Linked DNA regions of Homo sapiens: region 1 is linked to region 2. Evidence: fine-mapped expression QTL. A gene starts in region 2. The other region holds a variant in brackets. All regions are shown on one strand. Distances are between the middles of the regions.

Evidence for each region. PIP is the estimated chance that this variant, and not a neighbour inherited with it, causes the effect.
Region 1: its variant is the best candidate, but not a certain one, in a credible set for the expression of MASP1 in caudate (GTEx, PIP 0.88).

What each region holds. Positions count from the first base shown.
Region 1 is chr3:187,170,868-187,176,251 of GRCh38, forward strand. No RefSeq gene overlaps it. Among named protein-coding and RNA genes, the nearest start is that of RTP1, 24 kb to the right of the region's middle. RefSeq lists enhancers at 1-477, 4,196-5,027, 5,028-5,384. The variant A/C (reference allele first, on the strand shown) is at 2,979.
Region 2 is chr3:187,288,626-187,294,002 of GRCh38, forward strand. It overlaps MASP1 (MBL associated serine protease 1), which reads right to left and starts at 3,112. Exons shown (of 11, transcript NM_139125.4): 1 at 3,003-3,112. The coding sequence starts at 3,007. It overlaps LOC101929130 (a long non-coding RNA gene), which reads left to right and starts at 2,647. Exons shown (of 2, transcript NR_135551.1): 1 at 2,647-2,911.

The DNA of each region.
Region 1 (5,384 bases), 120 kb before region 2:
TATTTCATTAGGACTGCAAAATAGTGATATTCTGATCCTATTGTTCCCTTTTATTTTTTATTTATTTACTTTTTGAGATAGAGTCTTGCTCTGTCACCCAGGCTGGAGTTCAGTGGCGCAATCTCAGCTCACTGCAACCCCCACCACCTGGGTTCAAGTAATTCTCATGCCTCAGCTTCGCGAGTAGCTGGGATTACCAGTGTGCTCCACCAGGCCCAGCTGATTTTTTTGTATTTTTAGTAGAGATGGGGTTTCACCACATTGGACAGGCTGGTCTCAAACTCCTGACCTCAAGTGATCTCCCTACTTGGCCTCCCAAAGTGCTGAGATTACAGGTGTGAACCACTGCGCCTCGGCCCCTTTTCTTTTATTAATTGTAATTCTTCTCTAAAGAATAGCTTCCCCTCAACTATTATTTGGTTATCACAAAATGCAGATTACATAAGGAAGCCAAGATAAATATGTAATATTTTTCCCTTGCCTATTTTTGAAATAAATAGTTGGTTTTTTTTATTTAAAATATCATTATTAATTTATGGATTTTTAGCATATTTGATGTACTTCAATGAATTGTGGCCATTATTCTTTTTGATGATCCAATTATTTTGTTTTTGGCCAGTGAAAGCTTCTTCAGGTTAGTTTCATTTGCCTTTTGTCTTTTGACATGACAATAGGAATTTTTGAAATCTGGTACAAGAAAATATTCCAGGCTCATTTTATACATTTATTGACTTATATCTGAAGGAATTATTTTTCCAGAAAGTTCTGATCACTTTTGGTGATCCAGGTGCTGAGAGGTACTTGTTGCTAATGGATTGATGATTTATTTCTTTCAGGTCTGTGTAATAGACAAAGTTAGGAAGTTCATAATTTTTATGGGCAATACAATTTCATTATGATATAATACTTATATTTCCAATTCAAATTCAGATAATAGGAATTTTTATTTACCATCTTAGATTTTATGTATTTCCAATCTCTTTTTGATTACCATAAAAATCTTGGTTCCCAGTAACATTAATAGAAGCACTAATACAATGTGTTACTTACCCTATTAAAATAAAAATAATAACACTGTAATTACTCCCCATCCCCACACTTCAGCCTCCATGAGATATATGGAAACAGTCAAATTATTATGTTTTAAAGTCATTTGAAATAATTCACCATTGAGTAAGCCACAGATTTCATAATGTTAGGTTAATTTTTTCCCCAAGTTTTCAGAATTTTTAAAAATTCAATTTTTTTGTTTTATAATTATGTAAAAAATAACATGGACCCAAAACAACACAACACAACAAAGCACATTTAGAAATATCTGTGTTCTACCTGTGTCTCCTCTACCCTGTTCCCTCCTCCCCAGTGAACAATAATATTCCTTAGTTTTTAACTTATCTTTCCATTTATTTTTAATATAGTCAAATATGTATCTTTCATCCTTCGAGGAAAGGTAGCAATCTTTATATACAGTTCTGCCCCTTGGTTTTTTCTTTTCCTTTTTTTGTTTTTTAGTTGAGAGGCTATCCTGGATATCACTCCATAATGGTTTATAGAGATTATCCTCATTCTTTTGTTTAGCTCCATAGTTCTTTACTGGGTGGTGTTTCATATTTTATTCCTCTTGTATCTTACCATAGGTAAGGTATGCCGTACAGTTTAGGTTGTTTCCAATTCCGACTGCTACAAACAACATAGTACTGAATAGCGATTTGTGTATATCATTTTCTGTTTTTGTCAACATATGTTAGGCATAAATTTCTAGACATAGGATTGCTGGGTCAAAGGGAAATGCATGTATTATTTTGTTAGATATTTTTGACTGTTTTAAAAATAGAACATATTATTATGTTGTATGCATCTTTGAAAGCTACTTTAAACTTTTTTATAAAAAGAACATTGGGGCATAAATTACTTTTAATATTTATTATAATAATAATATGAAGCACTAAGTAACATACATTTATAATTATATAAATATCTATCTTTTATAGGCATAAGACTCTGTTATAAAAATTAATATTCATCAGGGATTATCCACAAATTTCCCTTTTCCCCCCACTCCACCAAAGTGAATGCAATTGCTGGATGGACCTTTCCCCACTCTTCCACATGCTTTTCTCATCCCTCACTCCCTACATTTGTCATTGCTAGACCAGTCTCTACAGACTTTTGTAAGAATGGATCAAGAAGGATTTTATGGCAGGGAGAATGACCCAGGGAGAAAGTTGGAGGGATAGGAGGTGAGAAAAGTGGAGGCGAGGGAGGCTGAAGGTGAACAACATGGTGGAGAGGGGGAGGCAGCAAACGAAAGGTGCTGGGGGACACAGAAGGGAAGAAGTAGAGGGGAAGAGACATAGGAATATGAGAAGTGTTGCTACAACTTGTGAGTCTGATCCACTCTCATCTTCTTTTGGAAAAGCAAGTTAATAAAATTCTTCTATAATTGCTTTTCTGGCTCTTATACTGTGTATCTTGAACATGACACCACATAGAGACTGATCTATATGGACTGTGACTTCCATAGGGCATCAAGTCTTCATAATGAAAACACCTGAGAGTTTACAGATAATACAATACTGAGATTTAAGTTGGCTGTTGGTGTGAAATAAGTTATGTATGAATTAATATAAATGCTGTAGCCTGTGTACTAACTGAAGCCCACCCATATCCCTATAATGTAGGTATGCCTCTTTCTAATTATAAGCAGACCTACAAGGCAAGACTGAGTCACACCAGATGTCCACTTACATCTTAATGCTTGAGTCCAAGTCTTCTGGCATAAAATTATATAGATCACAGGCAAAATATCTAAAAAAGAAGAAAAAAACCCATAGCAACAGAAAGTAAAATCTGATTGTTAGCAAAGCCAATGCATTAGCTAAACAGAATAGTCCGGGGCATCAAAATGTTAGCAAGCATGGCTGCCCTCTAAGGAGAAACTGAGGTCAGGTTGCCCCAGATCAAAGCCCGAGGAGAAG[A/C]CAGATCCTGCCGTGCACAGAATTCATTCACTGGAAAGAAGCCTTCTGGGCCAAGTCCCTGATGGCGTTGAGAGCTGACTGGAAATGCATTCCCTGAGAGAAGGGTTTTGTAATCCTTGATTTAGTTTATTTCAGTCTGTGGAAAACCTTGTTGCTGAATTCAGGATTCTTTCTTCCAGAGAAGATTTGGGCTTGTGTTTGCAACAGCCTTGGACAGCTACAGACCTGCAATTCCTTTAATCCCTTTCCTTGTGTCAGGCATAATCCGGGAACCTGAGTTGATTCTGCTCTCCCTCTGCTCAAAGTCCAGCTCTGGATTGTTGTGTTGATATTAGCATTTGCCCTGAGGGCAGCTCCCTCTTTTCCTGCTCACTGCTGTGGTTTCACCTCAAGGTTTTAAGAGTAAATGTAAAATTTCCATATATTTATCTCCTTTATCCTCATAAGAACCCTGGGAGATAGCAATAATTACCTGCCTCCCTCCAGCAGCCAAAAGAGGGAATAAGGCGTTAGAGGATACCAACTCCTTGAAAGTTACAGGCCCAGTTAAGTGGTGGAGTCAGCTTTGTCTGCCTCACTCCAAAGTGAAAGTTTTTGTTTTTTTTTTTTGACAGAGTCTTGCTCTGTTGCCTTGGCTGGAGTGCAGTGGCGCGATCTTGGCTCACTGCAACCTCCACCTGCCGGGTTCAAGCCATTCTCCTGCCTCAGTTATGGCCTTCAAAAAGCCACTTTACTGTTTCTCCTCATTTCAGTCCAGACTCCGGGCTGCCAACCGTCTCTTTTTAAAACATGGGAATGTACCATCATTCTAACCATCCTTGATATTCCATCTCTACTTCCCACCGAAATGCGTAAAAGCACATTTTTTTTTTTTTTTAAGAGATGGAGTCTCGCTCTGTCACCCAGGCTGGAGTGCAGTGGCCTGATCTCGACTCACTGCAACCTCCACCTCCCGGGTTCTAGCAATTCTTCTGCCTCAGCCTCCCGAGTAGCTGGGATTACAGGTGCATGCCACCACGCCTGGCTAACTTTTTGTATTTTAGTAGAGACGGGGTTTCAGCATGTTGCCCAGGCTGGTCTCGAACTCCTGAGCTTAGGCAATCCACCTGCCTTGGCCTCCCAAAGTGCTAGGATTACAGGCATGAGCTACCACACCAGGCCGTAAAAACACATTTTGCCACAGCATTGAGAATTAAAGATGGCAACAGACCACTTGCCAATGTCTGGAAAAATTCTCACTAAGTGAGACATGGAGGAGCTTCGAATGACAAACTTTCGGGCGATAACACTCACTTTGACCTGTGAAACAAAATGGCAAGGCTGGTCATGACGATGTCAAATAGCAGATTTGACACTCCCCTCCCCCTATTCCTCTCTCTAGGCCATGCCATCCCCGGTTTCTAACTCGCCACAACCACTGAACAAAGCAGTTGTCTGGGGTGGGAGGAAAACAGCAGTAGGGTCTGTCAGTTTCCTCCCAGCATGAGATGTAAAAACAGCCTAGGCATGGCTGAGTGTGGTGGCTCACGCCTGTAATCCCAGCACTTTGGGAGGCCGAGGTGGGTGGATCACCTGAGGTCAGGAGTTCGAAACCAGCCTGACCAACATGGTGAAACCCTGTCTCTACTAAGAATACAAAAATCAGCTGAACATAGTTTTCACGCGCATCTGTGTGAAGAGACCACCAAACAGGCTTTGTATGAGCAACATGGCTGTTTATTTCACCTGGGTGCAGGCGGGCTGAGTCTGAAAAGAGAGTCAGCGAAGCGAGATAAGGGTGGGGCCGTTTTATAGGATTTGGGTAGGTAAAGGAAAATTACAGTCAAAGGGGGCTTGTTCTCTGGCGGGCAGGAGTGGGGGTCGCAAGGTGCTCAGTGGGGGGTGCTTTTTGAGCCAGGATGAGCCAGGAAAAGGACTTTCACAAGGTAATGTCATCACTTAAGGCAAGGACCGACCATTTACACTTCTTTTGTGGTGGAATGTCATCAGTTAAGGTGGGGCAGGGCATATTCACTTCTTTTGTGATTCTTCAGTTACTTCAGGCCATCTGGGCATATAAGTGCAAGTCACAGGGGATGCGATGGCTTGGCTTGGGCTCAGAGGCCTGACTGACATTCCTGCCTTCTTATATGAATAAGAAAAATAAAACAAAATAGTGTTGAAGTGTTGGGGCGGCGAAAATTTTTGGGGGGTGATATGGAGAGAGAATGGGCGATGTTTGTCAGGGCTGCTTCAAGCGGGATTAGGGGTGGCGTGGGAACCTAGAGTGGGAGAGATTAAGCTGAAGGGAGGTCTTGTGGTAAGGGGTGATATTGTGGGGATGTTAGAAGAAACATTTGTCGTATAGAATGATTGGTGATGGCCTGAATATGGTTTTGGATTAATTGAGAAACTAAATGGAATAAC
Region 2 (5,377 bases):
TTCCCAAAAAGCAAGAGTCAGGAATGAGCTTTGGCTCCTAAACCGGACTTCCCTATAATAGCGACACCCAAATTATGCAAGGCCGAAAGGTCAACTTCCTCCATGACTGCTTTTTCCAGACCACATCGAGGAGACACTGAGCCTCCTGAGGCCGGTTCTGTCAAGGACTGGCAGCAGACAGCCCTGTGTAGCCCAGAAGCCCGGTGCCATGTGTGGTAGGCAACTGGTCAGCGTGGGAGGAAGGCCCAGGAAGCTTTCCCTTCTACTTTGTTTGCATCTCAAAACGGTTTCAAACATATGAAACAAATATCTCCCTTCATGTAATGGGCTTGAGCATATGCTTGCCTGCTTGCGTTAGGGGCTGTAAATTGAAGAATATAAGTGGCAGCTTTCATTCCTCGTCACACTCTCTGAATGTTTTTGGCTTCTTGTATACGAGGCACCGGCTGTATAGTTCCCAACACCTGCTATCTATCCTCCGGCTAATCAAAAAGTTTAGCTACATTGCAGAAATGTCAAAAGTAATATATAGAGCTGAGATTTCAGAGGCCCCCCGTAGGAACAGGCTAGCAGGACTCTGTAAAAATGCCTGCATATATCTATGATTGCGGCATGAACGGCACTTGCTATCTTTTCCATACACTGTCCGTACACGCCCCTTGTTTCAACCCACTCCACACCAAGACTCCATTTTTGAATTGAAGAGTTGGAAGGGACTGCATGGATCCTTTACAGAGCACCCTAATTTGACAGACGATGAAAAGGATACCCCAAGAGATGTCACATCATGCTCAATACCATATGGTGAATTAACTTCAACAGAAGAAGGGAATAAAAAGAGCTCACAGAAGAAGCTGGGTCCATGCCCATATCATGCCCAGGCATCTGGCCAAAGCAATTAATCCTGTGAAAAATAATTGAAAAACCCATGGCTTTACGTAAAAAATTTAAAAATATTAATGCCAAAGTCCCTCCTCAGGAGGTTCTGGTTTAATTGCTCTGGGGTGAGGCCTGAGCACTGGCATGTTTCAAGGCAGCACAGATCATTCCGACGTACAGTCAGAATTATGAGCCGTCAGTTTAGAATAATACACTTGGCTGAAAGTCTAGTGGAATATAGTAGAAAAAATCCTGAACTTGGAGCCCGAAGACCCAAATTTGAATCTGGACCTTTTCATGATCATCAGTGTGGTTTGGGCAAGTTGCTTAACTGCTTTTATACCCACTACTTATCCATAAATCCTTACTTCATCCAGAATCTGAAACCCCCATGAGACAGTGCTCTTGAAAGTGCTCTGCAAACACTGAAATACTGTATCCATGTGAGACAAGACCTGCTGGAGACTTTTCTAGCAGAGCACCTTTCTCGTAGTTGCTTGGCTATTCAAAAATTGAATTCAATTCAACAAATAGGTATTGAATGGCTGGTAGGAAATAGACATTATGCTAGGTGCTGGCCATACAAAGATGAAGACATAGATCATGTAACTTAAGGAGTGCTGAGACTTGTAAGGGGAGGTGGACATTTAAACAAGGGGATACTACAAGGACAATAAGAGATGCAGCTTCAAGGGACAGAAACAGAACAAAGGACAAAGGAGGGGATGCTCACTCTGGAATATGGTGGTCAGGAGAGAGAAAGAGATATTTGTGCCAGCTTGAACAATCAGGTCTTCTAGGTGGAAAATAAAGAAGAAGGTTGCTCCAGGTTGAGGGATGAGCATATGCAAAGATACAGAATTGTTACTCAGCCAAGTAGTTTGATATGGGCTGGGGCACTGAATGGTAGGGTGGGATTCAGACCAGATCATTGACAGATAAATGAGATTATCATTCAATGTAGATTGACATAAATCACTTTTTTTTGGAGAAAGAAAAATGATGTTTAATGGCAGGTTTAAAATTACTATGGCTTTAAGAAGAACAGAATTATTGCACTCACTTTTTAAGGACCTGGTTATCTCTCTGAACCACAGGTAATCGGAGTTCAAAGAGTTAACATAGTCTGAAGCCTCTCATTGGTCTCAGGTCCAGAAAAGTTGCTAGGTTACTTTGCAGAAGAGAAACAAATAAAAACACTTTCCCAAGTGAAAAGAAAATTAATAGTAAAAGATGTGTTTAGGGACTTACACATCTGCAGAGCATTGTGTGTGTGTGTGTGTGTGTGTGTGTGTGTAACAGCATTAACACTTAACTAATAAAAATAACTAGGGTGGTTGGGTTTTCAGACTTGCAGGATAGAACTTGTATGAAAGGTCTGGTAAGGAGTGTCAAGTATAATGAGGAATAAGAAAGGTTAAAGAGTTTAAAACCAATTAGAATTTGAAGTTCTTGATTTCAGAACTCTAAAATCCTTTTTTTTTTTTTAAGTATGATATCTCTTTAAGAGCCATTTGGTGTACTTCATAGCCTGATTCATGCCACCAGCTGCCTCTGATTTCAATGAGAAATGCAGAAAATTTATAGGGAACTGTAAAATGGGGACAGATTTTTAGTTTTCTAAATTGAGGTTTAACTGGCAAACTTGTAAAGGTTGAAGAAACCACAGAGCCAAGCTATGGGAAGCTGGTTTCTTTTCTGGTCAGAAGGAATGAACACACAAACACATATCTAACTCACAAAGTGCTGGAAGAGAGAAAGCAATGCTCTTTCCAGAGGAGGAACACGGAAAAATCAGCCTTGTGGGTGAACAGGAGGAGAGTCACATTCGCCAGCAGGCAGCACCCTGTGCAGGCAGTGGGAGAAATCTGAGCTTCAGCAGCGTCCGGAGCAGGATTTGCACGAAGTCTCCCGTTTCAAGTTTTATGTCTCCTGGAGTCCTGGGGAAGGCACCCAGCCCACCCACAGCTCCCTTCTCAGAGCCCTAAGAATTGATGAGAAAGCCCCTCACTACCACATGCAGGACACGCAGGTGAGTCTGTCAGTGACAAGGTCAGACCTTCCCTGCTATTTGACACTGGTCCCCAAAAGGGAACCGTGCCCTCTCCTCCCCTGGCACGTACCTCATTTTCCTGCCTTGGGTGCTCCCGGCTGCCCGGCCTTGGTCCTCCCAGCTTGACTTGCCTGTGAGCTCGTGCCCGGTGTGGTGTCCGTGATGCCTTATCTTTGTTCTGAGGTCCCTGTGTGTCTCTGGAATTGGCTGGCATTCTCCATTCAGGTCACGCCTTCCCCTGCCTGCAACAGATCCCCTCTCCCCCTCTCTCCCTCTGGCTTTTCCTCTCTCCTCTCTCTCTCCTTTGACTTGCTCTTGCACTCCCAGGAACCTGACAACAAAATCTGTCTTCCTACCGAAAAGATCTGCTCCTTCCCTTCCCTCCTTTATCCTGTGTGGCTGACTTCAGCCCTTGAGAGAAAATAACTGAGGGGCTCAAGCAGGTATTTGTATCACTCTGTGTGTGTGTGTGTGTGTGTGTGTGTGTGTGTAGAGAGAGAGAGAGAGAGAGAGTGAAAGGGGACAAAGTCTAATTTCTCTTTAGTCTTTTTTGCCAGATGACTATAATTTTCTGCTTTTCTTCAGGACACCCATGAAAGAAAAGCAATTAAATAGAAACAACCAACTAAGAAGGCAATTCTAGCACCTACACTAGAAGAAAAAAAAAAGGTCTAAATCCCAGAGCGTCTGTCTGCAAATAACTACAGGTTTCCTTGTGAGCAGAGCCCCAAATAACTACAGGTTTTCTCGTGATCAGAGTCACACACAACGACAGGTTTTCCTGTGAACAGAGCCACGGGCCCGGAACTGGGGAAGCACCAAGTCCTGAAGTTGGCTGGTTGTTCCTCCCCATGAGCAATACCTGTGGCACTGTTTACTTGCTCGGAGTGTGTGCGGCTCTACTCCAGCCCAGAAAGGGCCCATCGCAGCAAGAAATCTCACCTCCCCAGGGGTGTAGAAAGACCTGGGCCTGTATATATGTCTATACCCATGGCTTCCGGAGAAATCAACACTAGATCTAAGATGAGCTGAATAATAAGAAAATTACCCCCTCCACAACAACAACAACCAACACTGAATAGGGAGAGGTGTATCTGGGTGTAAAAGTTAAGTTTGACTGTGCACCTTTTCTGTGTTAGACACAGTACTAGTCATTAACATCATCTCAAGTTACTTTTGCAAACTGGTGAAAGTGCTGCTGTTATACTCATTTTACAAGTGAGGACACTAAGGCTCAGAGAGAATATGCCACTTGCCAAGATCATCCAGTTATTTATGACTCCCCACTGCCACTAGCACTAGAAGCTAACAGCTATTGAGTGCTACGTGTCAGGCACTGCTCTAAGCACTTAATATATGAATTCTTTTCAGTCATCTTTATATGTTGTATACATGGCTGGCAATATTCTCATTTTTCAGAGGAAATTGCCCAGAGAGGTTAAGTAACTTTCCCAAGTTCACACAGCTAGAAAGTAATAGAGGCAGAATTTGAAGTGTTAGCCACTGTATTACACTGCTACTCATTAACATTTTATAATGCATATGGAATTTCAAATGCACACACACAGACGGCATTCATAGAGAAACTCAATCTGAGTCATTTTGAAAAGAAGATTAGACTCAGAGTTTAGCTGTAATCTTTCCTTTCTACCCAAGACAGCTGTGTACTTTGGGCACAATACTTAAGGTATCTGATTCTGTGTCTTCATTTGGAAAATGGGAGTTACTATGAGGCTTAAATAAGACTGTGCTTGTAGAAGTGTCCAGGGGAGTACCAGAGAGAGGGCTGCCAGCCACACTCACCAAAGCGGCAGACACATGCACTGTCTACCCTCAGATAACGTTCCTTTGGCACGTTCTGGGGAACAGTGGCTTGACTCTCACTGTACTTCTTACTCCATTTTCTCTCCAGTTTCTCTAATTTTCACACTTTTGAATGCCAGCCTTGCCAAGCTTGGCATTATCAAGAGGCTGTGGTTGATAAAGCAGGTACAAGTATATGAGATGGGAGGATATGTTTGAACTCAGGCACTGTTTTAGCAAAATGTGTTCTGTCTCAGTCAGCACAGGAAAAAAAGCTTTTAACATTCCCGTTAAGAAGACTCACAGGCTCCGCACACATTAAATAACTCTCACAAAACAACATTTTAATGATTTACGTGTAAATGAATCAGAAACACATGGACGACATTTCTCTTGGAATACACAAGGGTTTTAAAACTGAAGGAGAAAGAGCTTGGCAAAATGCACACTGTGCTGGGAAGAGGGCCCCTGCCCAGTAAAGACATTCCCTCAATTCATGCTGCCACGGAGTTTGCCCTCTCCTAATTTAGGGCATATACTGGGAACTGCAGTCATTTGTTCTGGGTACAGAGGGAAGAGCTTGGGCGAGAAAGCCATCAGCTTCTCCTTGGAAAGTGTCACAGAGCAATTAGGCCTCCTGGA